Linked DNA regions of Homo sapiens: region 2 is linked to region 1. A link means that fine-mapping ties the variant in region 1 to the expression of a gene that starts in the linked region. Tissue or cell type: whole blood. Region 1 holds a variant in brackets; the other region holds the start of a gene. All regions are shown on one strand. Distances are between the middles of the regions.

The links. PIP is the estimated chance that this variant, and not a neighbour inherited with it, causes the effect.
Region 2: it holds the start of MAPRE3, and the variant in region 1 is fine-mapped to the expression of MAPRE3 in whole blood (TOPMed, PIP above 0.99).

What each region holds. Positions count from the first base shown.
Region 1 is chr2:26,999,529-27,007,064 of GRCh38, forward strand. The region is part of intron 1 of MAPRE3 (microtubule associated protein RP/EB family member 3); the gene reads left to right. The region is part of intron 1 of MAPRE3-AS1 (MAPRE3 antisense RNA 1); the gene reads right to left. Among named protein-coding and RNA genes, the nearest start is that of MAPRE3-AS1, 11 kb to the right of the region's middle. The variant T/C (reference allele first, on the strand shown) is at 3,686.
Region 2 is chr2:26,966,680-26,974,215 of GRCh38, forward strand. It overlaps MAPRE3 (microtubule associated protein RP/EB family member 3), which reads left to right and starts at 3,958. Exons shown (of 7, transcript NM_012326.4): 1 at 3,958-4,123. RefSeq lists a silencer at 3,843-4,172.

The sequences.
Region 1 (7,536 bases):
GCTGTTGTCACCCAGGCTGGAGTGCAGTGCAGTGGTGTGATCTCGGCTCACTGCAACCTCCTCCTCCTGGGTTCAAGCGATTCTCCTGCCTCAGCCTCCTGAGTAGCTGGGATTACAGGCATGTGCCACCACACCCAGCTAATTTTGTATTTTTAGTAGAGACGGGTTTCTCCATGTTGGTCAGGCTGGTCTCGAACTCCTGACCTCAGATGTTCCACCTGCCTTGGCCTCCCAAAGTGCTGGGATTACAGGCGTGAGCTACTGTGCCCAGCCCAACTACATGCACTTTTAATGTGACTGACATCTCATAGATTTTTTTTTGGCAGATTTTTTTAACCATTTTAGTGGATAATACAAATTTGAAATACAAATTAGTTCTAATATTTTACCATAAAACATTTCATTTTTTCCACATTATCATTATTAAGGTTTCCATTTCAATTCTGAATATAGTTCTCAATATTTTACAACTGCAGTAAGGAAGAAAAAATATTGTTTTCAAACTACTTATCTTTCTACCAATTCTCAGTTGTTGGTTCTTAAAAAATGACTTCACAAAAATTTTTAAGATGCTAATAACAAATTTCCACTTAAATATATGGATGGCTGATTTTACAAATAAATGTACGGGTTTGTGTTACTATTATGCTCTCCCTAGATAACAAAACAATAAAAGAAATTTTAGTAATATCAAGTAAGTACTGACCAGGTGAGTACTGTGAGACAGTGTCATGAAAAGGTTCTTAGGGGTTGAAAGACATGGTTTCTGCTCAGAGGACTCACCGCGGAGCAAAGGAGAGAGACCCGTGGACAGATAAGTACAAGGCAGGCTCCTGTGAGAAATGACAGAGGTATGAGGCTGTGGAGGCCCAGAATGTTCTCCATTATGACCCGATGAGGAGGGAGGAGGGAAGTGGAAAGAGGAACAAGGGTAGAAGAGAAAGGAGAAAAGTGAAAGACTTAAAAACAAGGAGGGAAAAGAATGAAGAAGAAAGAGTTACAAGGAAAATAACTTGCCATTTTTTACACCTAATAATGTATGAAGTACTTTCAGATTGGTTATTTCATTTGATTCTGCCAAGAAGGCAAGAGATGAGAGACAGGAGGAGGAGGAGGGAAGCAAGGCCCATGACCAGGAGAAGGAGCTGCACCACAAAGAGCTCAGAGCCCCTCTGGCCTCCTAGGCCGGTGCAGCTGCCGGTGTCCGCTGGTGAAGGTGGACCTCAGTGGCCCTAGTTAGAAGCCAGTGGGACCTTGTAAAACCAGGGCTCCAGCTGGGAAGTCTGAACCTCCTGGACAGAAAGCAACAGAAGCCTTAAAGTAGTTATCTTGGCAACTATTGTCAAGGACTCATTGCTGCCTGACCACAAGATTTATCCAATTATTTATCTACCTTGTTTTATTTTTTAATATTTTTTTCTCATCACGAAAGTAAGACATATTCGCTGTAGAAAATTTTGAAAATTCAGATAAACCCAAATATGAAAATAAAATCCCATATAACCGTACCATCAGACAGAACCACAATTATAATTTTAGAATATACTTCACATTTTTCTTCAACAACTGTTGGTATATTTTTGTTCTGTAATACAATCATACATTGCTTAATGATGGGATACATTCCGAGAAATGTGTCTTGTGATTTTGCCATTGTGCAAACATCATAGAGTGTACTCACCCAAACCTAGATGGTATTGCCTACTACATACCTAGACTGTATGGCATAGCCTATTGCTCCTAGGCTACAAACTTGTACAGCATGTGACTGCACTGGATACTGTAGGCAATTGGAACATAATGGTTAGTATTTGGGTATCTAAATATATGGTCTGGGTATGGTGGCTCATGCCTGTAATCCCAGCACTTTAGGAGGTTGAGGCGGCAGGATCACTTGAGTCCAGGAGTTAGAGACAGCAGTGAGCCATGATTGTACCACTGAACTCCAGTGTGGGTGAGACAGAGTGAGATCCCATCATTCATAGATAGATAGATAGATAGATAACTGATAGATAGGCATATAATTGATAGATAGGTACGTAGATCTAAACATAGAAAGGGTACGGTGAACTATGATTGCACCACTGCACTCCAGCCTAGGAAACAAATCAAGACCCCTTCATTAATTCATTCATTCACTCATAAATAAATAAATGCATATATACACACATACGTACATACATGTATACATACATACATTAAACAGAAAGGGTACAGTAAAAATACAGCATAATCTTATGGAACCACTGTCGTACATGCAGTCTGTTGTTGATGTAAACATTGTGATGCGGTGCGTGACTGTGTTTTCCCCCGGCTTCATGGACTGTAAACATCTTTCCATGTGTTTTATCAATTGGGATTGTGTTTTGAAACAAGTAACAGCAAACCCTGTCAACAGTGGCTTGAACAAATAATGGGGTATTTTGCTCGTGAGGCAGGAGTCTGAAAGTAGGAGGTCTAGGCTAGTGGAACAGCTCAAGGACGTTGCCAAGGACACTCCTGCTGTCTTAGGCGGCTGTGTTGCTTTACGGTCTCAAGGTGGCTCTTAACTCTCAGGGAGGCTGAGAAAGCAGGCATTTTGTGTTACTGGCCTCTCTATTGGAGACAGGTAAGGAAGAAGGGTGTTGGGATGGGAGCTGAGTCACCCAGCCAGCAGTGCCAGCATCATTACATATTCTAGAACATCCCTCTTTTCAGAGTGGCATTGTTTGGATGTGTCACAATTTATTTAACAATTCATTGTTGGACATTTCGGTGGTTTCCAGTTTTTCATTATTGTAAACATGCTAATATCTAAAGTTTTACACATATCTATAATTAGTGATTCAGTATAAAATTCCTAGAAGTGGAATTAAGGTCAAAGAGTATATAAAATCTAAAGGCTTTTAATCTTTTTTTTTTTTTAACCAAACTGCTCTCCAAAATGGCTGTACTAAACTATATTCTCACCAATCATGTTTAAAAGAACCCATTTCCCTGTACCCTCAAAACCAGGTTTTTTGTTCTGTCATTAAGCTGTTATACCATGCCCATTAGTGTGGGTTTAACTTTGTATTAGCCCTGACCAGACTCTGAACTGCCCATCTTGGAACCCAGAGCAGTTGCACCCTTCTGTGTTGCACCTGGGGGTGTGGGTCTGCAGGCTGTCCTGTATGTCCAGGCAGGCTGGTGGGGCCCTTGTGCTGATGGGCACTGCAGAGGACCCATGATGTTTCTTGTGAGCATGCACCTCGCTCATCTATTCTTGTTTTGAAAGTCCTTTCTGCCACTGTGAAGTCATCATTTGTCCCACCTGAGTCCTAATTCAAGGCCATCCTGGCTTGTCTTAGATTGAGATGCACCTGGGAACTGGCCTCTTTCGATACAGTGCACCCCACATCCTCACTCGTTGCTCTTACTGGCCTACCTCAGGTATAATGGCCTTACAGGTCTGTGTCATCATCTGTAACAGAGAAGGCTGAGAAGATGGTGTCAGTAGATTCTGGGGACATTTTAATCTATTAAGCTGCTTTTGAGACGTACTACAGTTTCCTGAGGAGGTGGCCAAAAGAGTGAGTGATCCCTATGCATCAACACTCTATGAAGTAATTACTAACTGGTGAGCAGTTAGCCACTACGTACGGCCCTTCTCATCCAGTGAGGAGTCAGCCATGGGTGAGACAGAAGGAGTCCCTGAACTGCAATC[T/C]TCTGGCCAGATTCTCTATATGCACACAGTGGTGTTTCAATATTCATGAGTGTAGGCAGATAGTCACGAGTAAACAAATGAGCAATGAATCCAAATGAGCAAGACAGGCTGAATGCAGAACACAGGCCAAAGCCCCAGACCACATCACTACCCCTCTAAAATCAGAAAAAAAAATCAGAATTCTGATTCCAGGAGGGAAATGATAAGGACTCTATTTCAATGCTCCCTTCAGGACCTTACCCTGATCTCTTGAGAGGTGACACCCTCAAGAGAGAAGCACCATCTTAGGGAATCAGCTGTCTACGAGCTTTTCTCATAGCCATGGCTTTACGCTTCTCTGTCAGTTACCATCACCACTTGGAAAGGGAAACTACAATTTATGAAGCATCTGTTATCGATCCAGCTAATGCTGGGAAGGTGATACCTGACCAGTCACTACTGTCAAACTTCCAGCTCACGGCTTCTACCCAGATCCCTCACTTTCCCCATGAGAGGGTGCTGCTCAGTATGGCATCCACAAAATCAGTCCCTCACACAACTTACTTATTTAACAATATCACAGTCCCCATCCCCTTCTCCTTACCTAATTTCATTGTTACCGGCCCCATGTCAAAGATTATTTAAAACTCCCCGGCTGTCAAAATTCCATTAACAACCTCTGACCTATAACCGTCACTCACTGAATTGACACGTGTGAGGTTCTGTGCGGATGCTCCACTTGAGTTAGCTTGAACCTTCACAACAGTCCGGCAGCATAGGTATTTTAGAATTATTAGTAATGTTGAGCATGTTTCACATGTTTGTTGGCCATTTACACTTCCCCTTCCATGAGTCATCTGTCAAGAGGCTCTGTGCCCACGAGCCATACACATAATGATGTCCAAAAAGCGCTTCTATTTTACTGTAAGAAACTCAGGCAAAGAGAGGCCGCCTTTGCCCAGAGGATCTCTCATGCCTGGGAGGTCGTGAGAGGCAGAGCTGGAGTTGGGTGCTGTGGAGTCCTTTTCACCACCTTTTTCATGCACCATGCTGCCCGTCCACATAGCTCAATGTGCCTGTTTATTTCTTAGGAAATACACCACAGGGCTACTATTTAGGTAGTGCAATTAAAGTTTACTTTCTGAATTCTCTATTTCCCCTATCTTTAGCAGAAAACTTGGGAAAGCCTAAGTCATTTTCCACTTCTTAGCCCCTTCCTCCTCCCCCTCATTTTCTAGGCAAAAATATGATAAGAGAGTAGCTTGGATAATGTCTAGCTTTGTTTTGGTTCTCTGGTGATGTGAATTTTTCCCATTGTTACCAAACTCCCACTTTTTCCACGTCGAAATACATTTCATGATAGCTGGAGTATGGCAACAGCACTCCTGAGTTACAGGCATGCGCCACCATGCCCAGCTAATTTCTATTTTTGTAAAGATAGGGTCTCACTATGTTGCCTAGGCTAAAACCTTCTGATAAGGATATTTTCTAGTATCTCATGTTTAGAGCAAATTACTAGAATATCAAGGATCTAGTAAAAAAAAAAAAAAAAAAGTAAATGCCATGGATATGTCTGGGATCAGTACAGATTTATCCCAGGATACTAGATCTTTAGTAGAAGGCATGAATGGTGAGAATTCCTCAGCAGGATTTCCGGATGTTTGTTAGACATGAGCACACAGATGACTTGTGGGTTCTCAAACTCGACAGCCCAAAACAGTTCACAGAAGAGTAAATATATATGGGTAATAAACATAGAAATATGTTCTCCCTCACTAGTAATCAAAGAAACATTATTTTAAAGATAAAAAAATACTTCTCTTTCAATCAACACACTTTTTAAAATAATAACAATGTTGGTGTTGAAATGAGCACTCATAAACTTCTGGGGAAAAAATGAAAGGTACAGCCTTTATGGAAGCTGTTAGTCCTTAAAAAATATATCATGCCCTTTGACCCAGTAATTCCCTGCCCAAGGAAGTAGTCACAGATTTAGACAAAAATTGAATGTTCAAATATATTAATTCCAGGACTATCAAAAATCAAAATGCCCAGCAACTAAAGCTAATGTAAGGATAGCATGGAATATTATGCCCCATGGAAGATGATGCTTCCTAATATCCTTAATTATTCTTTGAAGTGTCCACAGCATAATCTTAAGTGAGCTCGTGGTCTTCACTGCACTCTCAAACCTGCTCTTCCTGCAGTTTTCTCCATCCTTCCAGTGGCTTGGGCAAGAAACTTTGGGGTCATCTTTGACCTCTCTCACATCTCATAGTGCTCTGCAGCAAATCCTCAGTCCCACATTTTGTAAGATTCTCCCTACTTTCCAGGCCTTCTGCAAAGCATGAACTGCAAAGGCTCGAGGAGGAAAGAAAGCAACACTGAACTCCCTTGAGTGGTTAGGGTTTTGGTTCCTAAATTAAGGCACAGTTTTCCTTTTCCTTGAATTAATTATCTAACTCTTCCTCCTAGGGCAGAATCAATGGGCCAAATGGCCTCATTGAGAACATGACATCCAAAGGGAGAGTGGCAGGAGTCAAAGTATTATTATAATGAATAGAAATAGGTGAGGGAGAAAGTAATGGGATTTCATTGGTGGCAACCCTACTTGCTGAGAATTGTTGTATATTTTCAGTGAGCAACAAATATTGTACAGCATGGAGGACCATCAAATTTAAAAGAGACCTTAAAACCAAGAGTGTGTCGGCCGGGCGCGGTGGCTCACGCCTGTAATCCCAGCACTTTGGGAGGCCGAGGTGGGCGGATCACGAGGTCAGGAGATCGAGATCATCCTTGCTAACACGGTGAAACCCCGTCTCTACTAAAAATACAAAAAATTAGCCGGGCACAGTGGCGGGCGCCTGTAGTCCCAGCTACTCGGGAGGCTGAGGCAGGAGAATGGCGTGAACCCGGGAGGCGTAGCTGGCACTGAGCCAAGATTGCACCACTGCACTCTAGCCTGGGTGACAGAGCGAGACCCCGTCTCAAAAATAAAAACAAAAACAAAAACAAAAAAAAAACAAGTGTGTGGAAGCCATTAGCTTAGCTGCTGTGGCTATTAGACAAGTAGGCTTTGCCATTGGGTGAAGAGAGACTTAGTAGACTATTGATGTCTGATAATTCCCATTATTGGGGAGGAAATGTAATTTCTTCTTAACCTTCATAAGTTCATAGTTGGGACAGACCCCTGTAACAAAAGACAGATCAGCAAAAGAAAAACAAGCAAAGTTTTTTTATTTTGTTTTTCTCTTCAGATACAGGGTCTCACTCTGTCACTAAGGCTGGGGTGCCGTGGCATGATCACAGCTCATTGAAGCCTTGAACTCCTGGGCTCAAGCAATTCTTCCTCCTCAGCCTCCCAAGTAGCTGGGACTACAGGCATGTGCCACCACGTCCCACTATTTTTTTTAAAATTTTTTGTAGAGACGGGGTCATGCTATGTTGCCCAGGCTGGTCTTGAACTCCTGACCTCAAGCAGTCCTCCCGCCCCAGACTCCCAAACCACTGAGATTATAGGCATGAGCCACCATGCCTGGCCAAGCAAGTTTATTAATGTGTGGAGGGCACAGAATGCAGGAGAAACCCCAATGAAAGGCAACTTCAAGGCAGTGGCGTCAAACTCTGGCTTATATGCCATCTTCAGAAAAGAACAATACATTTGTAGAGAAATAACAGGACAGAAGAAAGCAATTTTAGGCTTCCAAAAGGGGGAAACTGTGGGAAGTTAGATACATGGGAAGAAACCAATGGTGTAAGGTTTGTTTACAGATTCCTCTGGTGCTGTGTCTGGGCTGATAAGAACTATCTCCAGTAAAGAAGAATTTATATCCTGTCTTTAGGCAGAAAAGCAGGAGAATAGAGCTCATCCT
Region 2 (7,536 bases), 33 kb before region 1:
AGTTATGTGATAAGATTTATTTCTAGAAAGAGCCTTCTGACAATGGTGTAAAGAATGGATTGGAGATGAGAGAGGCTGAAGGCAGAGAGAGCAGGCGGGAAGCTCTGCAGTAACCCAGGCAAGAGATGGTAAAGGTGAAGCAGATAAAGAAGGGAAGAGTTTTGAGAGGCATTTAAGAAGTGGAGGCCAGGCACGGTGGCTCACGCCTGTAATCCTAGCACTTTGGGAGGCCAAGGTGGGTGGATCACTTGAGCTTGGGAGTTCTAGACCAGCTGGGAAACATGGTGAAACCCTGTCTCTACTAAAAACACAAAAATTAGCTGGCATGTGCCACATGCCTATGGTCTCAGCTATGTAGGAGGCTGAGGTGGGAGGATCACTGGAGCTCAGGAAGTCTAGGCTACAGTGAGCTATGATCACACCACTGCACTCCAGCCTGGGTGACAGAGCAAGACCCTGTCTCAAAGACAACAACAACAAGTGGAATTAGGGTCAGGCCCTGGGCTTACATCTGTAATCCCAACACTTTGGGAGGCCAAGGCTGGAGGATTGCTTGAGCCCAGGAGTTTGAGACCAGGCTGGGCAGCATAGCGAGACCTCATCTCTACAAAAAAAAAGAATCTAAAAGAAAATTAGCCAGGTGTGGTGGCACACCCCTGTGGTCCCAGCTACTTGGGAAGCTGAGGTGGGAGGATTGTTTGAGCCCAGCATGTCAAGGCTGTAGGTGAGCCGTGATCACGCCACTGTACTCCAGCTTGGGCAACAGAGCAAGACCCTGTCTTAAACAAACAAACAAGCTAAAGAAGTGGAATTAACAGTATTAGAAAACTGTCCTGGGGCTGGGTGTGGTGGGTGGCTCAAGCCATTAATCCCAGCACTTTGGGAGGCCGAGGCAGGTGGATCACATGAAGTCAGGAGTTTGAGACCAGCCTGGCCAACATGGCGAAATCCTGTCTCTACTAAAAATACAAAAATTAGCCAGGTGTGGTGGTGCATGCCTGTAGTTCCAGCTACTCGGGAGGCTGAGGCGTGAGAATCGTTTGAACTTGGGAGGTGGAAGTTGCAGTGAGCTGAGATCGTGCCACTGCACTCCAGCCTGGGTGACAGAGCAAGACTCTGGCCCAAAATAATAATAACAATAACAATAATAATAATTTGCAAATCATATATTATCTGATAAGGGATTTATATCCAGAATATATAGAGAAATCCTAAAACTCAACAACAATAAACAAACGGTCCGATTCAAAAATGGACAAAGGACTTGACTAGACATTCGTGCAAAGAAATTACACAAATGATCTATAAGCACTAAGACAACATAAAAAGTCGTCCAGCAAGCACCCTGCTGTTTAAGTTTCAGCCACCTTCTGACTCACACCTTGAGCTAGAACCATCCAACTGCGGGCTTTCTGAATTCCCATCCCACAGAAATAGAGATAACGAAATGGTTGTTGCTTTAAACCACTGAATTGGAGTGATTCATTTTGTAGCAATAGTTAATGGCACATAGTAAAATGTTAATATGTAGAGAATCTGGGTGAAGGGTATATAGGAACTCTTTGTAGAATGGTCCTCTACCTTGTGTATGACAAAGGGGTGGGGTTACAAGGATCATAGCTTCTTCTCAGGATTACTCAGGACAGTCTACACCACCCAAGTCTATACCTGTAACAATGAAGCTGAGCTGGAACTTCAGAATGGGAAAGCAAGATAAACTGAGCGTGCGACTTCCCTATTGCCTTGGTGACACCCAGATACCCTGCAGATGCAGTTAGAAACAGCTCCAGTTGTCCAACTCTGTGGCTAGAAAAAAGTGTAGCCTGGGTTTTTACTCTCCTAACCCCTTGATTTGTTTTGGGAATTATTGTCTACAAAGAGCTCTCTCCTTTCTGATAATTGCTTTAGGTGGAAGAAGAGAGGATATGCTGTGTCCCCTCTCTTTTCTTACTTACTCTATTTGTAACTTTCTTCTTTTTTCCCCAAGAAAATGGGCTTAGTTGGGGTGCTTTGGCACCAATAGTCCTGCGGCGGAATCTGTGGGAGCTAGACAGGGAGATTTGGAAGAGAATGCTAGGTTGTGAGCTCTTGCTTTTGAGTTGTTTGAAGAGAATGCTGCATCTCTGGCATGTCAACAAGCCCAGCAGAATCCAGTAACGTTCACCAAGAAGGCTTGATTAGAGCTGGTTAGGGGATGATCAGGATGGTTAGGTGTGAAGAGCTTACGCTGATTATGGAGGGTATGGGAGTCACGGGGTTGGTACCCAGTGAGGAAATTTACCTTAGTAGAAACATTTGGGATAGTGTAGAAGAGAGAAGAGCTAGAGGCGAGGATTCAGGAAATAGAGAATGCCAGAGTCTCAATTAACAGGATGGAAAGCTAAGGAGATGAAAGACTTATAATAGTAGCATAGTACTAAAAGACAAACTATGTGTAAAGGTATTAGAAATGGGGACTGGGACTCTGAGGCAGTTAGGCCAGAGAAAAGAAGAAGGAAAAGATTTGTCTTCATTTGATTCAATTACATAAGCATTTCTCAGAATCTGCTATGTGTCACATGCTGTGGTGGATGCTGAGGGAGCTGATGAAAAAGACAGAATTCCTGCCCACCAGGGTCACATAGTCTGGAGACACAGACACGTAAACAAATGACGATAGTGTAAGGTGTGTGTAAGAAAGGAGGAATGTACAGGGTTGGTACAAAGGTGACCTCAAGGCATCCATGGGAATCAGGGCTGAGGGAGGAAGAGCCAGAAGACATCAGCACAAAGAGAACCAAGATGCTGAAGTCACAGGGGGAAAGAACATACTGGAGCCCCGGGCAGAGCAGTGCTGGACAAGGACAGCAAGTGTGGAGAGGAAAGGGAGATCCAGAAGAACCGAGGAGATCCATAACAGCATGCTTGGAGGAGGAAATTCGGGAAAACGAATGGACATGTCAGAGGGAGCTAGTTATGAGGAAGTGGACTGCAAACCAGATAGTGAGCAAGATGAAGAAATGAGGTGTTTATCCTTGCAATGGGAGAGAGACAATAAGGCTGACAAAAACTCAAGTGGTCTGTGGATAGACGATTTCGTTAGCTCGATTTAAGGGTAAAGGGCACACTCTCTGGTAGGAGATGAAAGGGGATGTTTAAAACAGGTAGAAAAAAATTGGGCCGGGCGCGGTGTCTCACGCCTGTAATCCCACCACTTTGGGAAGCCGAGGCAGGTGGATCACCTGAGGTTAGGAGTTCGAGACCAGCCTGGCCGACATGATGAAACCCCTGTCTCTACTAATAATACAAAAACTTTGCCAGGCATTGTGGCGCACGCCTGTAATCCCAGCTACTCGGGAGGCTGAGGCAGGAGAATTGCTTGAACCCAGGAGGCAGAGGTTGCAGTGAGCCAAGATCGCGCCAGTGCACTCTAGCCTGGGCGACAAGAGTGAAACTCCGTCCCAAAAAAAAAGAAAAAAAAATGAATTTGGGAATTAGAGAAAAAGACTGTGATTGGAACCCACACACCAAGAGAGGAGATAAAACCCAGCCTTAGCTCTTCCATGTCGCTGAAAGAGAAGAAAACGTCTCTTTTTCCTTTTCCGTAGCCATAAAAGATGAAAATCCGTCATCCAGCTACTGAAATCAGGTGCACACGGTTGTTCCTCCTGTGATGAGACAGGGCGGAGGGATTGTTACCCTGTTGCCAGGGAAAAAGGAAGGGGCTGTTCCCAGTTGCTATGGTGACGAGGTAGGCGCGTTCCCTCGGTACCGCCGCACACGTCTGAAGCGGTCTCTTCTCCTCGTTGCTACGGCAACGCAGTGGGCCTGTTCCTGTCGCCCCCCGCCTCCCGCCGCAATCGCTAAGGCAAGGTGGAGGTAGGGGCTGTCCTCCCGCGGCTCAGTTGCCTTGGAGACGGCGGGTGCCCTGGCCCCGCCCCGCTCGGACTGACAGCGGCGGCCGCATCGCGCCTGCGCAGTGCCCTCGTCCCCCGCAGTCTCTGTGCGTTGAAGCCGGAGACCGCGGCGGCCTCAGCGAGGACCCTCCGCCCCGGAGCCGCCGGCCGGAGCCGCAGCCTCTGCCGCAGCGCCCCCGCCACCTGTCCCCTCCCCCTCCGCCTCCGCCGGAGCCGCCTCGTGCACTGTGAGTCCGGGCCGAGGCGACGGACGCCGTGGGGCTGAGTCAGCGGGAGGCCAGGGCCCGGGCTGGGGGAGGGGAACCGGGCTCCCCCCGCCCCTGCCTCCCCACCCGCACTCCCGCATCCCGACCGCGCCTTCCCCGCGCCGGTCAACCCCCTCCATCCCTGTCGCCGGGTTCCCTCCGGCCTTGGCGGCCCGGCCTCCCCAGCCACTCCCCCTCCCCTTCCCTCCCCTCCCCTTCCCTCCGTCTCTCCGGGTCCACCTTGAGGCTCCTTCCCCACTAGACGTGGCCACCGCACCTCTGCCCTGGGCTGATATTTTCTCCAAACTACCTCCCGTCCGCCCTTATCCCTTCTCCCTCCTCCTCACTCCTCCTAGGCCTGACATCTCCCGGCCTCTCTGGATCTCCCCAGTGATGTGCCAGAAAAAGAGTGACAGGAGAGCGAGGGGAGACTTGGGGGAGGGGGAACATCGGGCCAGGCCCAGCCTGGGGGCCTCGGGTTTCTTCCCCACACGCTCCTGCCTGGCTGGTTTGGGGAAGCAGGTCTGGACAGTTCTCACTGGCTGCTCAGAGCTTGCAGGGCTTTCCGAATAGATTTGGCTGGGAAGGGTTCAGCCCCATCGTGATCATCTAGCGTTTAATGAACGCGGCTAGTGCCTGGTGGCCTTCTAGTGGGCTGAGCTACTGCCCGGCCGGTGTTGCGGAGCGGGGAGTAGAAGTAGTGGAGGGAAGGGAGAAGAGGTTGCGTTTGGGAGCTCCAAGTTCCTGCGCTTCCGGTGTGGTGTTGTGAATAAGCATCTTGCGGAACTCTTTAAAATGCTTTTTTTTTTTTTTAAATCGCACTACAACCCTGGTATAATGTGAGGTTTGGAAAAAGGCCTGATACCATCCATAGGAAGTGCTTACTGTTTATATATGAAGGGGCTGTGGCAGGACTTGATCTTGGATTCCTGTAAATTAACTAATTGGATAGTAGTGAGTTTTTAACATAACGTGTGCAGAGTTGAGAGGAAGGAGAAAAATCGAAGCTTCTCCATGGTGTAGGTGTGAGGCCTGTACACTGTGCCTCCTCCAGCTGTGTGTCTTTGTGGGGCTGTCACCAGATAGGGGTTCTAGCATATTTGGACAATTCCCTGGGTTATGTTTGCTACCCCTCCACCTGCCCATCTTGCAGTCCCTGTTCTTGGAATAGAAGAGGGTCCCAAACAGTTTTCTTTTTCCAGAAGAACTGAGTTGAAGTCAGAGTTAGTGCCCAGAGCCAGAAACTCTTAATAAACATGTCTCAACTTGAGGGCCCCTAACTACTATATGACCTCATTGTCAGCTTCTTTTTTATTTGGCTTCCAAATTTCAGTGTGCTTTTAGAAAGCACGTGTAAATATAAGCCAGATCTACCGCACAAGAGGCTTTGGGATTTTTACTCCAGATGGTAAAAGGAACGCATGGTCCATTTCTAAAAATCATGGTGAAGGAGCCACTCATTTGGAGTTTCCGGGGTTGCAAACAATGAGAAATAACTATTTCACTCTTTACTTTGCTCAATCATGGCCTATTGGCAGCCTCCTCATAGCCACTCCCTGCCCCCATGCCCATCAGATTAGTTTACAGTAGCCAAGACGGCTGTCGCCCTAGTTTTAAACATAGAGATGAAGTTCAGGAAAACTATAGCCCCCATCCAGCAGGGCAGTTTCTTCTGTTTCGAATGCCAGACTGGGGTTTGGTGGGATGCACCTGCCTGTGGTGCAGTGGGAACTGTGGGGCCTGAGAGTGGCATTCCTTCTGTGTGGTCCTGTGTCACATAGCTCACCAAAATACCCGAGCAGGGCAGGAGCAGACAGCTGTACTGGAGAGCTGCTCCTCCTGGGCTGAGTGTATTTTGGGAATCAGCGATATTACTGGGGTGGAGGGTTGTGAATTAAGGAGGAAGAAAATGTGTCAAGGCTAGATAGATCAGGAGGGTGTAAGTAAAATGTTCCTTTCCAGTTTGCTATGGGATAGTACATTTTCAGAGGATCAGAGTAGTTTTTATATGGATTAATTTGCCTTTGAAATCCATACCAGTGTTTTATGAGATAATGATGGAATGCCTTTTAAACTGCTACTATGAGGAAACAGGACTAATACTTGTCTTATACATTGCCTATCCAGCTGTTGCTGAATGTAATTGTTAAGATCAAGGAGAGGGACATGATTTGAACCAAGTTAGACCTAAATCTATGTAATGGTATTGAGGTTTTGTAGGACTGTATTCTTGATTCTAAGACACACCAGCAATTTACCAATAGCTTTTAGGTAAAATAATCTAATGCTACCAGATCAAAATATATATGCTGATTCCAAGGTGCATCCTCATTTTAGAAACATTAAAACCCTCGGGAAATGGCAAGACTTGAGGGAGGGATTTGTGAATCTTGGAACTGAGAAAGAATGCTATTGATAGTATTCCTGTGTGATGATGCCGTTTCTGACCTACCGTCCTGAGAGTGCATGCATTGTGAAGCTGAGTTTCTTCTAGTCCTTCCTGCACGCCAGCACACATTGTGGGGTTGTATTTGTAAGATGACTGGCTGGAGTTAGGCATAGTAGGAGGCTATTGAACGGAGGAAAGTTCCCATATGAGAATCCAACCCAGGGTCTTAATGTGGTACTCTCCAGAAACTGAGCCAACTAACTGGCAGCAAACGTCTTATGAGCTATTCCTGAATTTAGCCGAGTAACATTTGTCAGAAGCCGAACAGAAAATATAGTTTTTTTTTTTTTTTTTTTGAGACGGAGTCTCGCTCTGTCGCCCAGGCCGGACTGCGGACTGCAGTGGCGCAATCTCGGCTCACTGCAAGCTCCGCTTCCCGGGGTTCACGCCATTCTCCTGCCTCAGCCTCCCGAGTAGCTGGGACTACAGGCGCCCGCCACCGCGCCCGGCTAATTTTTTGTATTTTTAGTAGAGACGGGGTTTCACCTTGTTAGCCAGGATGGTCTCCATCTCCTGACCTCATGATCCACCCGCCTCGGCCTCCCAAAGTGCTGGGACTACAGGCGTGAGCCACCGCGCCTGGCCAGAAAATATAGTTTTTTAAAACAGAATGCATCTGCCCTGATTTGCTTACAGATACATTTGTAAAGGTCCCAAGGCACATGTCTCCCTCGCTTAGGATGTTAGCACTGGAGGTGACCCCAGATGGTATAGTTTAATGCCCTCATTTCTAAAGTTGACACAAGACACCAAGAGTTAAATGACTTACCTAAGGTCACCCAACCCATGCAGAACGTATGTAAAAACACTTTGTAAACTGTGTACACTAGGCAGATGAATGTTGGTGGTTATTAGTGGCTGAGTCAGGATTAGATCTCCAGATTTCCAGACTAGAGTTATTCTTCAACACCACATTGCCTCATCCCTCATAATGTTCCAAAGGGTT